3 linked regions of the Homo sapiens genome follow. The protein of the gene in region 2 interacts with the protein of the main gene of each other region in a pairwise test. Each region holds a gene or a part of one and is shown on either strand. Other genes may lie near its edges. The genes, in order: PTPRG, PKD1 and ATF7IP.

Region 1 (3,647 bases), on a different chromosome or scaffold from region 2:
TAAAAAATCAACTATACTTGTGTAAAAAAGAGTTATCGGACTTGGCTTTGACTTATTTTTGGTATTGTGTTTATGTGGAGTTGTAACCAACAAAATCAATAAAAAGGATAAGTATATTCCAGAAACCTGTATTTACGTCTCCTTGCTTTTCCCTACAATTTGCCTGTTGCAAATTTCTAAGAACATGGGATTGTTAATGTCTCTTTAAAAGATGTCTTAAAGTAATACAGGTAAATTTCACTGTCAGGAAAGTCTGTGATGATTGAGATGTAGAACAGATAAATTTGTGGTTAACTCAGTATGAAAAGGATTGTTAGGTATAAGTGATGGCTGTGCAAGATTGCTTTAAGTAGCTAGAGGGCTTCTTGAGTGATTGTCCCCTTCTATTGGGACAACTATAATTGGAGGGACCATTTCACCTGGTATCATTTGTGGCAAGATATTTGGTGTTTTGACAGAAAAATATATTCTGTGTGAGATAGCTTGCTGGATCTATGCAGGCCTAAGGTTTTTATGATTGCAGCCCTTAATACAACTGTAAAAAAAATTTTTTTTTTGGCCTGGCATGGTGGCTCATGCCTGTAATTCCAGCATTTTGGGAGGCCCAGGCGGACGGAACATGAGGTCAAGAGATTGAGACCATCCTGGCCAATATAGTGAAACCCTGTCTCTTCTAAAAATACAAAAATTAGCTGGGCATGGTGGTGCACACCTGTAGTCCCAGCTACTCGGGAGGCTGAGGCGGGAGAATTGCTTGAACCCAGGAGGCAGAGGTTGCAGTGAGTTGAGATTGCACCACTGCACTGCAGCCTGTGCGACAGAGCAAGACTCCGTCTCAAAAAAAAAAAAAAAGATTCGTTTTAAGTGCTTCCAGGGATAGGAAGAGGAATGACAGCTGATGAGGTTTCTATATGTGCCTGGTTTCTGTTTTGGAAGCCTCCCAAACGGAATTGGGTAGTGTTTCACTTGTACTTGTGGTGGGTGTGGGGATGGAGGTAACTTACACATTGAATGAAAACTTCATGTGTCAGCCAGTTGATGAGAGTTGCCATACTATTTTGTCAGCATGTAGCAGGAAGAAAAATCTTTTAGGAGCCTGGAACTTGTTAATGCTTTTCTATTTGTTTTCTAAACTAGGTGGCTATTGAGAGTTATACAGAACATAGCAAAATAGGTAAGAATATGGCCTCTGGAGCCAGCCTACCTGTGCCATTGCTAGCCGTGCTACCTTAGAAAAGTTACATACCCTCTCTGTGCCTCATTATTTTTTTCTTCCTCTGTGAAATGGGGTGGTGATAGAAGCCTAACTCCTAAAGTCTTTGTGAGGCTTGAATGAGAATGTATATAAGGACTTAGTGCTGTGCATGGTAAACAGTAAGTGCTCAATAACCATTTTTTTAAATCAAAAGTTTTATATGTTTATTTTTATAGAGACCGGGTCTCTCCCTGTGTTGCCCAGGCTGGTCTTAAACTCCTGACCTCAAGTGATCCTCCTACCTCAACTTCCCAAAGTGCTAGGATTACAGGCCTGAGCCATTGCTCCTGGCCACCGTTTTTAAGTGTTCTTAAGAGATTTGGATAGGAGTGTATGGAAAGCGGACGGTGGAACTGAAAAGGACAACTGTATGTATAGACAACTTTTTGAAAAATTGTATAAACATACGTGATGGGTTTTTGTATCTGTCTTTGCTGTTGAGGGTGAGGAGGAGTAGGGATCAGCATGGGGACATTCTATGTAAGATTACTAACAGGTTACATTTTGAGGTTTAAATAAATGAGAAAGTCCTCATGAAGTCTGAGATATCACCTTGCCCACATTGCAAAGGAGGTCTCTGCTTTCTCAGCTTAAAGTGGGAAAAATGCTTTCTGTGGGCTTAAAATGTGTCTCATAAGTCTTCCAAATCCCTGTGTAGAAAGAGTCGCCTAGTCCTGCACCCTCAGATGTTAATTCCTCTTCTCAGGCTTTATGGACAGTGTGGTAATGGAGGGAAATAGGTTACTCATTACTGGGATTCAATTTGGCTCCACTGATGGGAAGCAAACAGTAGTTGGGTGTTTGCTTTTATTTTACACTTGTGTGACACTTGAACACATTGATGTCCTGTCTCTATATGTTCATGGATTCAGAGCTACAGAGCATATGAGAGAGAACCAAACACTGATGCACACCTCGTACCCTCTAATCTTTTCTTTTTTTTTTTTGCAGACTGAAATCAGCATGATATTTTTCTGGCCAAACAACAAAATGTGATTTTAAACTACTCAGTTTAGCTATTTTTGGGGAGTAGCAAAGTGACACAGTTGGCTGCTGAATTCTAGCAACTAAAAAAGAAAAAAATGAAAGCATAGTTCATGGAATATGTAACACTTCCATGTAAGAAAATAGGACAACTGGTCTTATTTTTGGGTCTGTGATACTGTCTTTCTAAGTGAGTGAAGCAGGGTGTTGTATAATGCAGTGGATATACTTTTGAGGAATTCATACTAGTTACAATATACATCTAAGAGGTATTTGAGTTTTCATAGCATTGCTGCCTCATGAATCCTGCAGTGCACTTAAATCAGATCTGTTCATTAATTGGGAATGATTTGGATAAGGGGACACAGCCATAAGCAATTGACCAAGCATAAAAGCATAGTCCAGATTAGTGAGGAAATATTACTGACTTTTTAAGGTTGTCTCGAGAACTTTTTAAGAATTGTCAAAAGGATTTATTTACAAAGCGGTGGTTATTTATAAATGAGTTCTACCTGTTTTTAAAATGACACTTTTCCAGAAGCGTTTCTCTTCAGTAAGTGTGGAGGCTTAGCTCTGTCTGTGGGTAGCTAAGGGTGGTTACCCAACATCTTACGGAAGTGGGGTTGGGTGGCGCTGGGGCTCTGGGAGTTTCAGATATACATATCTCTTATTCAGAATCCACACCAAAACCACAGAGACCTGGGTTGAAATTCTTAGTTCATTACAGCATTTACCTTGGGCAAATGGGCCTCACCCTTTTAATCTATAAAATGGGAATAGTAATTATAATAGCCTACGCTTACCAAGCACATGTGATCTATGCCCCGTGCTTGAGCATTTTATATGCTTTTAATCATCCCTGGAAGTATGAACCATGATTATTTCCACTGTAGGGTTAGGAAACTAAAGTTGAAGAAGGTAGGTCCAAGGTCACCGGGGTAGCAAGGCGCGGGGAGCGGTGGGGGGCGGTGACTGTAATATGTTTCTCTAATCATTGCTCAGGATTTTTTTTAAATTTTATTTCAGACCATTTGCTTTTTGAAGAGAGTATGGAAACTATTTTTCCTAATTGCACAGGAGGGCCAATTGAAAGATCTAGCTTTTTATGTATTTCACCCTGTTACTTTTCCCATATAAGCAAGTGCCATGAACACTGGGTGGAATAAAGGTGTCTTCCTGTACTTGCTACAATTAAATAAGTAAGTAATGCAATTAGTATAGGATTTTATTTGGTTACGTTGAAGAGATGACCTTTCAGCAAATTACTTTAGCTTCTGAATAAGCTGATAATAACTGTGGATAGAGTCTGAATTTGTTGGTGGTGAGTTTTTTTTTGACACTACTCCTCTTCCAAATTACCTAAATTGATTTGCTTTGTAATTTGAGAACTTTTGTTTGGGGCTTTGAA
Region 2 (4,220 bases):
AAAAAAACACATGGGTCAGGAGGGAGAAGGGTCGGGGCAGGGAGGGCAGGGCAGGCTCTGGGGTGGGGGGTCTGTGAGTCAGCCACGGCTCTGCCCACGTCTCCCCACGAAGCTTCGAGCCACGCAGAGCAGCACGTTTTGCAGTACGCCATCTTTTCCAAAAGCCACCACCTCTCGGCAGCATCATTAACCCAAGGCAGGCTGTGGCCTCAGAAGCCCCGGCTGTCCTCCACCTGGAACTGGACACAGCTGTCCCTGCTGAGCTTCAGCAGCCAGGGAGCCACAAGTGGAGAGGCACCTGCGTGAGCCCCCCAGGAAGGCTACTGGTGACACCCAGACAGCAACGCTCTTGGACCCTTGAACACCTGCCAGCAGCTGTGATCTGTGTCCTTCACCTCTCCCAGCTTGACCCCTCTTCCCTGGGGAAAACCCAGCCGTCTCCCCGAGGAGGAGTTTGCAGGGTAGACAGCAAAATGGCTGGGCTGCCCCACAGCACAGAGGGTGGCCTGGGGGGCCAGCCAGGGCCTTCACATCCTTCCTAAGGCCCTAGTTTGCCATGGGTCCCCTCACCCCACCTTCCAGAACTCTCCCAGCGGCGGCCCCAGGTGTGTACAGAACAGCACCCACCTGCCCACATGAGGTCACCCTGTGCCCTGTTGCACACTTGGGGGGCCTGGCATTCGGAATCTTGCCAGCTCAGGCTGGGACAGGCCACCAACTCCCAGGGTCCCCCTCCTCCAAACCCCAGGACCAGAGCCTAAGAGGACAACACAAGGCAGGGGCGGGGGCTCCACTGCTGTGCCAAGGGCCTGGAGAACACGGGCCTTGCTCTCCGCTCAGCAGCCACCAGCGCCCTTCTCTCCCGGACAGCTCCTGAGGGGCTGCTCTCATGGACACCATCAGGTGCTGGGAAGCAGGAACCACCAGGCCCTGGACAGAGTCCCCAGTGACCGGCCTGGCAGACAGAGGAGCCCTCAGCTACAGCATCACAAACAACGGGTGGGGTAGGTCTGATGCAATTCTGTGGGTGCTGTTGCCAGGCAGGAGGAGGCCATCTCCACAGAGACAGCCGCGAGACACACGCGTCCGCAGTCAGGGAGCGCAGGAGCAATGTGGCCCCGAGGGGCACGGGCTCCATTGGTCCAGGAGAACCCATTCTTCTCCCACCCTCGAGACCACCCAGCAAAGCCCCAAGGACACACGGCTCCCCTAAGGAAGGGTGGCCACAGGCGGGAGTGACCCAGAAACGTTACAAAACCAAATGCCAGAACCCACCCAATGTTTAGCAAGCCTGGGGATGTGCCACGTCCCCCAGGGATCCAGCACGCACCCAAGGAGACACTGTCCCGGCGAGGAGCCTGGAGCCTGGGAAATACAAGGCATCAGACTGGTCCCAAGACTCTCCCCAGCGCTGGGGACAACTGTCTGCTTATCTTAGTCCCCTCCGCCCTTTTCAATCCAACCCTGGGTCCTGGGCACCTCATAGTTCCAAACCCCTGCTATGCACATCCCGGCTGTGATGCCTGGGACAGGTCGTGTCACCTCTCCAAACCTGTTTCCTCATCTGTGAAATGCAAATCTCCACGGTCCCTATGCCTCGGATGGTCAGAGTCAGGATTCCGCATGACGACCCCCAACAGGAGCCTGGCACAGACCTGGCTCTGGGCAGCGTCTCCATAAAGGCCACCTGTTGTTTTTATCTCCCGAAAGCGAACATGACAAGGCTTTAACCCCCCACGGCAATCCCCCCTCACCCCTGTTCTCAGGATAGCCTTGGAACCCAATAGCAGAGCGCCTGAGGCCCTTCATGACCCCAGCCCACCCGCGAGCCCACCTCCCACCCTGCCCCTACCCCTCACACCTCCCGTGGCCAGCCTCCAGCCTCACGGTCTTTGCTCACACCGTTCACCCCCCTTCTTCTGGACCCACCTCATCGCCCCTTCCTAAGCATCAGCCCAATTCTTGCACATCCATCAAATCCTTTTCCAGACACCTCCTGGAACTCTTCCCTGCCGCCCCCTACAGCCATCCCCACCTCTCCGGGTACCCCGCAGCCCCAGGCCGCATCCCAATTCCTCTCCAATTAGCGACTGTTTGTCCTCCCAGCTGAGCGCGGCCTCCGCGCCCCGCCCCCGCTGGCGTCTGCAGAGCCCCCGGGTGGGACGTCTGTCTCCAGACCCGGGGTTTTTCGGCTCCCCGGGGCCGTGCCAACCGCGGCTCCAGGCGTTCCTTATTTAGCAGGGCCGCCGTGCCGCGCCGGAGCCTCGCCCTGGGAGCGTCCTGGCCCGCGTCCTGCTTCCCGTCCCGGGCCAGGGAACGCGCCCACGCCCGCCCGTCCCGCGGCCTCTCCCGGGTGCCGCTGGGCCCGCTACTCACAGCGCTGTGGCGTCCGCGGGGATGCGCAGCGCGGGACCGAGCGTCCGCAGCCCGCGGCCCGAGCAGTTGACGCGGCAGGCGGCGCCGGGCGCTGGGCCGCAGAGGCAGGGGGGCTCGCAGGGCCCGCAGCCGCGCCCGGGGCCCCCCGCCAGCGCCCCGAGCCACAGGCCCAGGCCCAGGGCCAGCGCCAGGCGGGCGGGCGCGGCGGGCGGCATCGTTAGGGCAGCGCGCGCATGGCCCCGCCGTCCCCAGGCCCGCCCGCGCGCGGAGGCCGCAGCTCAGGCGGGGCCCGCGGACGGCATGGCGGGCGCGGGGCTGGATGGGGCTGCGGCCGCGACCTGCTGCTGAGCGACGCCCGCTCGGGGCTCGGGGCCAGGCCGCTCCGGGAGCTCGGCCGCCCGCTCGGACGCTGGCGCTGCAGTGCGGGCCCCGCCGCGGCTCCTCCTCCTCCTCCCCGCGCGGCGCGGGGCGGACGGGGCGAGGGGGGGCGGGGCGGGTGCAGGCTCCGCCCCCTTCGCCACAGCGCGACCGGGCCAGCGATGAGGGACTGGCATCCGGAGGCTTCACCCTCCGCTCCACAGGGTCGGCAGCAGGGCGGGGCCTCCGGAAGCTCCGCCCCACGCGTTCCCGGGGCGCATGCGACGTGGGGCGGAGCGTCTGGAAGCTCCGCCCGTCGCACTGCAGAGTCGGCCGAGGCGCACGAGCTATTTTTCACGCTCCGCCCCGCTGCAGGCTAAAGTGCGTGGGCGGGAAGCGGTGGGCAGGGTGCCATCTGGCTCCGCCCTTCTCCTGTGGTGTGGGCCAGGCGGCGGGTTCCTCCTCCTGCAGCAGCCACAGGCTCCACCCTGATCCTTCTTCCGCGGTGTGGATCCTTCTCCCGCAATCTCCGTGCGCGGCCCGAGTCAGTACCCGCAGCCTCCCGACGCACCCGCTGGCTCCAAGCCTCCCTACCCCAGGTTTCCTGGCTGAGAGAGAGACAGAGGGAGAGAGGGGGAAGAGAGAGAACAGGCAATGGGAGGTTGATGGTGAGAGCTTATTGAAAGACAAGAGGGAGGAAACCCACATCCTTCATTCCCCATCCATTCATTTATTGCCTTATTTATTCCATTGAATCTTCACAGCTCTAGAAAAAGTGTGCTACAATTATTCCCTTTATTAAATGAGGTCACTGAGGCACAGACAGTTTAAGAAATTTGCCAGCAGGGCACAGTGGCTCACTCCGGTAATCCCAGAACTTTGAGAGGGGGAGGAAGGTGGATCCCTTGAGTCCAGGAGTTGGAGACCAGCCTGGCCAACATGGCGAGACCCCGTTTCTACAAAAATTAGCCAAAATTAGCCAAACTGGCTCACGCTTGTAGTCCCAGGTACTCGAGAGGCTGAGGCCGGAGGAGCGTGTGAGCCCAGTAGGCAGTGGCTGCGCTGAGCCGTGATTGTGCCACTGCACTCCCGCCTGGGCAAAAGAGTAAGATCCTGTCTCGAAAAAAAAAAAAATGGAAAAAAGAAAAAAAGAACTGGCTGGGAGTGGTGGCTCATGCCTGTAATCCCAGCACTTTGGGAGGCCGAGGCGGGCAGATCACAAGATCAGAAGTTCGAGACCAGCCTAGCCAACATGGTGAAACCTCATCTCTACTAAAAATACAAAAATCAGCTGGGCATGGTGGCAGGCACCTATAATCCCAGCTACTAGGGAGCCTGAGGCAATAGAATCGCTTGAACCTGGGAGGCAGAGGTTGTGCCACTGCACTCCAGCCTGGGCAACAGAGCAAGACTCCGTCTCAAAAAAAAAAAAAGAAATTTACCAGGTCACACAGCAGGTGGATGGTAAGGCTGCGATTGTATTCCAA
Region 3 (3,647 bases), on a different chromosome or scaffold from region 2:
TTGAACCCATTTCTGGTGATTGTGCCGCTGATGATATAGCCTCTAGTGAAATAACTTCTGTTGATCTGGCTTCTGGAGCACCAGCTTCCACTGATCCAGCCTCTGATGATCTGGCCTCTGGTGATCTATCCTCTAGTGAACTGGCCTCTGATGATCTGGCCACTGGTGAACTGGCCTCTGATGAGCTGACTTCTGAATCAACCTTTGATCGTACCTTTGAACCAAAGTCTGTACCAGTTTGTGAACCAGTTCCTGAAATTGACAATATAGAACCAAGTAGCAATAAAGATGATGATTTTCTTGAAAAAAATGGAGCTGATGAAAAATTAGAGCAAATTCAGAGTAAAGACTCATTGGATGAGAAAAATAAAGCTGATAATAATATTGATGCTAATGAAGAAACTCTAGAAACAGATGATACAACTATTTGTTCAGATCGACCTCCTGAAAATGAAAAGAAGGTAGAGGAAGATATTATCACAGAGCTTGCTCTTGGAGAAGATGCTATATCTAGCAGTATGGAAATTGACCAAGGTGAAAAGAATGAAGATGAAACTTCTGCAGATCTTGTAGAAACGATTAATGAAAATGTTATTGAAGATAACAAAAGTGAGAATATCTTAGAAAATACAGACTCTATGGAGACAGATGAAATCATTCCTATTTTGGAAAAGCTTGCACCTTCTGAGGATGAACTTACTTGCTTTTCTAAAACATCTCTCCTTCCAATCGATGAGACAAATCCAGATTTGGAAGAGAAAATGGAAAGTTCTTTTGGTTCACCATCTAAACAAGAAAGTAGTGAGAGTTTGCCAAAAGAAGCCTTTCTGGTCCTCTCTGATGAAGAGGATATTTCGGGTGAAAAAGATGAGTCTGAAGTTATATCGCAAAATGAAACGTGCTCTCCAGGTTAGCATATAACTTAAATGTTAAAGATTTTTTATTGACTTTGATGAACTGTTTAATAAAACATTATCATAATGTTTTAAATTTATTTTAGCTGCAGAGAAAGTTGAGAATGGTGATGACTCTATAGAAAGATGTCTTAACTTCATAGAATTCAGAATTAGTGTGTGTACTCTGTGAGTAGCATTGTACTAAATACTAAGAAGGGAGATAAAATAAGTAGAAAATATGCCCTTATAGTCTGGAAATAGAGATGAAGTAGAGCACCATAACACTGAGATAACAGTTTAAGTTAGTACATAATTGACTAGAGTTGTAGCAGTTCTTTCTTGCTATCACTTAGCGAACAAATAACTTAGAACTAAAAGCCTAATAGTTTAATCTATTTGCTTCAAGTGTAACAAATTATATTTTCAATTAATATTCCCAATGAAATCCTGTTCTTTAATATTCTTTGTCCAGGAATGACAGCACCATTGTTGTAAGCCAGAAACCTTAAAGCTTGATTATCCATTTGATAAAGACTTTACCCATTTGCTCCCTCAGCCCTTTTGATTCTACCCAACCTATTCTCTTCCTCATTTTCTGAATGAGCTCCCTGTAACCCAATTCTCTTATTTGATATTGTCCGTCTATGTCTTAGATCTCTGTTACTTTTAGGTTGATTTCAAACTCCTTATGTAAAAGGTACATTAACTTTATGATTTGTTCAGTACCTATCTCTCCCATCTCTTTTATTTTATTTATTATTCCTAGAGAAAAAGAATGAGAAAAATTCTACCTTCTTTTATGGTCAAACTGAAAAACATTATTCCTCTATGAAACTTTCTAAGCCTGTGGAAGACTGAGAAAAGCATGAATACCTTTCTTTTCCCATTATATCACATTCTTTTAGATTTAGACATCTCTGAGAGAAGTGACCTTGCTAGCATAAAACACCATCTAATTTCTTCAAAGAAAAAAAAATGGAGGCAGGTCTAAGAGACAGAGACAACTTTTTTCCCCAATATATCATACCAGCTTTTGGAGGTAGAGATTTTTTTCTTATTAAAAAATGGCTTTTTTTTTTTTTTTGGCCAGGTAAGGTGGCTCACACCTATAATCCTAGGACTTTGGGAGGCTGAGGCAGGCAGATTGCTTGAGCTCAGGAGTTCGAGACCAGCCTGGGCAACATGGTGAGACCCCGTCTCTACAAAAGTACAAAAATTAGCCAGGCGTGGTGGCACTTGTCTGTAGTCCAGGGTACTTGAGGGCCTGAGGTAGGGGGATCACTTGAACCTGGGTGGTCGAGGCTGCAGTGAGCCGAGATCGCGCCACTACTCCAGCCTGGGTGACAAAGTAAGACCCTGCCTCAAAAAAAAAAAAAAAAAAAAAAAAAAAGGATGGCTTTTTATTTTCAAAGAGCATTCAACTAAACCTATATAAAGAGACAGGCCAGGCCCTTCTTGGTTCTAGAGATTTGAAGATAGTATTTGCCCTCAGGATACACACAAGAATTAAATCATAGGCCATTAAATACAAGACTGTGAGTACAGTGATAATGTTAAATTGGCATTCTGGGAGTGCAGATTAAGGTAACTTTATTAGAGCACCAGATGTATTAGGGATGTCTTGCCCCTTTTAATATCTGTATAACAGAGGTTTTTTTTGTTTGCTTGTTTTTGTTTTGTGAGACAGAGTCTTGCTCTGTTGCCCAGGCTGGAGTACAGTGGCACAATCATAGCTCACTGCAGCTTCCACTTTACTGGCTTAGGTGATCCTCCCACCTAAGCCCCCAGAGTACCTGGGAATACAGACATGTGCCACCACACTTGGCAAAATTTTAATTTTTTTGTAGAGACAGGGTCTTGCTATATTGGCTCTGCTGTAACATAGGGTTTTAATGAGTCTAATTCTTTTTTTTTTTTTCCGAGATGGAGTCTCGCTCTGTTGCCCCGGCTGGAGTGCAGTGGCACGATCTTGGCTCACTGCAACCTCCGCCTCCCGGGTTCAAGTGATTCTCCTCCCCACTCCGCCTCCTGCGTAGCTGGGATTATAGGTGCGCGACACCACGCCTGGCTAATTTTTGTATTTTTAGTAGAGTCGGGGTTTCATCATGTTGGTCAGGCTGGTCTCAAACTCCTGACCTCGTGATCCTCCTGCCTCAGCCTCCCAAAGTGCTGGGATTACAAGCGTGAGCCACCGCGTCTGGCCAAGTCTAATTCCTTTTAATGGCAGCTCCATCCTACTTGCTGAGGCCAGAAACTTTGGAACCATTTTTATTTTTTCTTTCACACCCCATAATTAGTCCATCAGGAAATTCTGTTGGTACTACTATCATAATAGATCTAGAGTCCAATTCACAACTGTTATTACTCCTGCTGCGAGTCACCATCATCAGGCCAAAACGGTGCCTGGCACACAGTAAGTGCCCAGTAAATATTTGTAAAGTGAATGAATAATCAATAATGTAAGAGAAGCATATCATGGAGGACCTTGGTTATAATGCTAAAGCTTTATGATGGCGCTGGAATGCCAATAAAGAACTTCAAGCAGAGAGGAGAATGAAATTTACATTTTGGAAAGGTAATAGGTGACAGTGTTGAGAATGAATTTCATCCATTTCCTATAAGTGTCTATACAGAGTGTGGCACTAGGCCAAGTCCATAAAAAAGCCTTATAAGTCCTTTAAAAAAAAAAAGTCTGTATAAGAAAGTTAAAAAAGCAAATTGCAGCTTATGATTTAATGAGTACCTTTATGT

Evidence for each region.
Region 1: the proteins of PKD1 (region 2) and PTPRG interact in a two-hybrid assay, tested with the Homo sapiens proteins (one study listed by BioGRID).
Region 3: the proteins of PKD1 (region 2) and ATF7IP interact in a two-hybrid assay, tested with the Homo sapiens proteins (one large-scale study listed by IntAct).

The regions. Positions count from the first base shown.
Region 1 is NC_000003.12:61,568,071-61,571,717, forward strand, and holds part of PTPRG (receptor-type tyrosine-protein phosphatase gamma isoform 1 precursor), read left to right. Parts: intron 1-3,647.
Region 2 is NC_000016.10:2,133,099-2,137,318, forward strand, and holds the start of PKD1 (polycystin-1 isoform 1 precursor), read right to left. Parts: upstream 2,801-4,220; 5' UTR 2,592-2,800; coding exon 2,377-2,591; intron 2,154-2,376; exon of another isoform or gene 1,935-2,153; coding exon of another isoform or gene 1,930-1,934; intron 107-1,929; exon of another isoform or gene 21-106; intron 1-20. UniProt on the Homo sapiens protein: Component of a heteromeric calcium-permeable ion channel formed by PKD1 and PKD2 that is activated by interaction between PKD1 and a Wnt family member, such as WNT3A and WNT9B. Both PKD1 and PKD2 are required for channel activity.
Region 3 is NC_000012.12:14,424,565-14,428,211, forward strand, and holds part of ATF7IP (activating transcription factor 7-interacting protein 1), read left to right. Parts: coding exon 1-909; intron 910-3,647. UniProt on the Homo sapiens protein: Recruiter that couples transcriptional factors to general transcription apparatus and thereby modulates transcription regulation and chromatin formation. Can both act as an activator or a repressor depending on the context.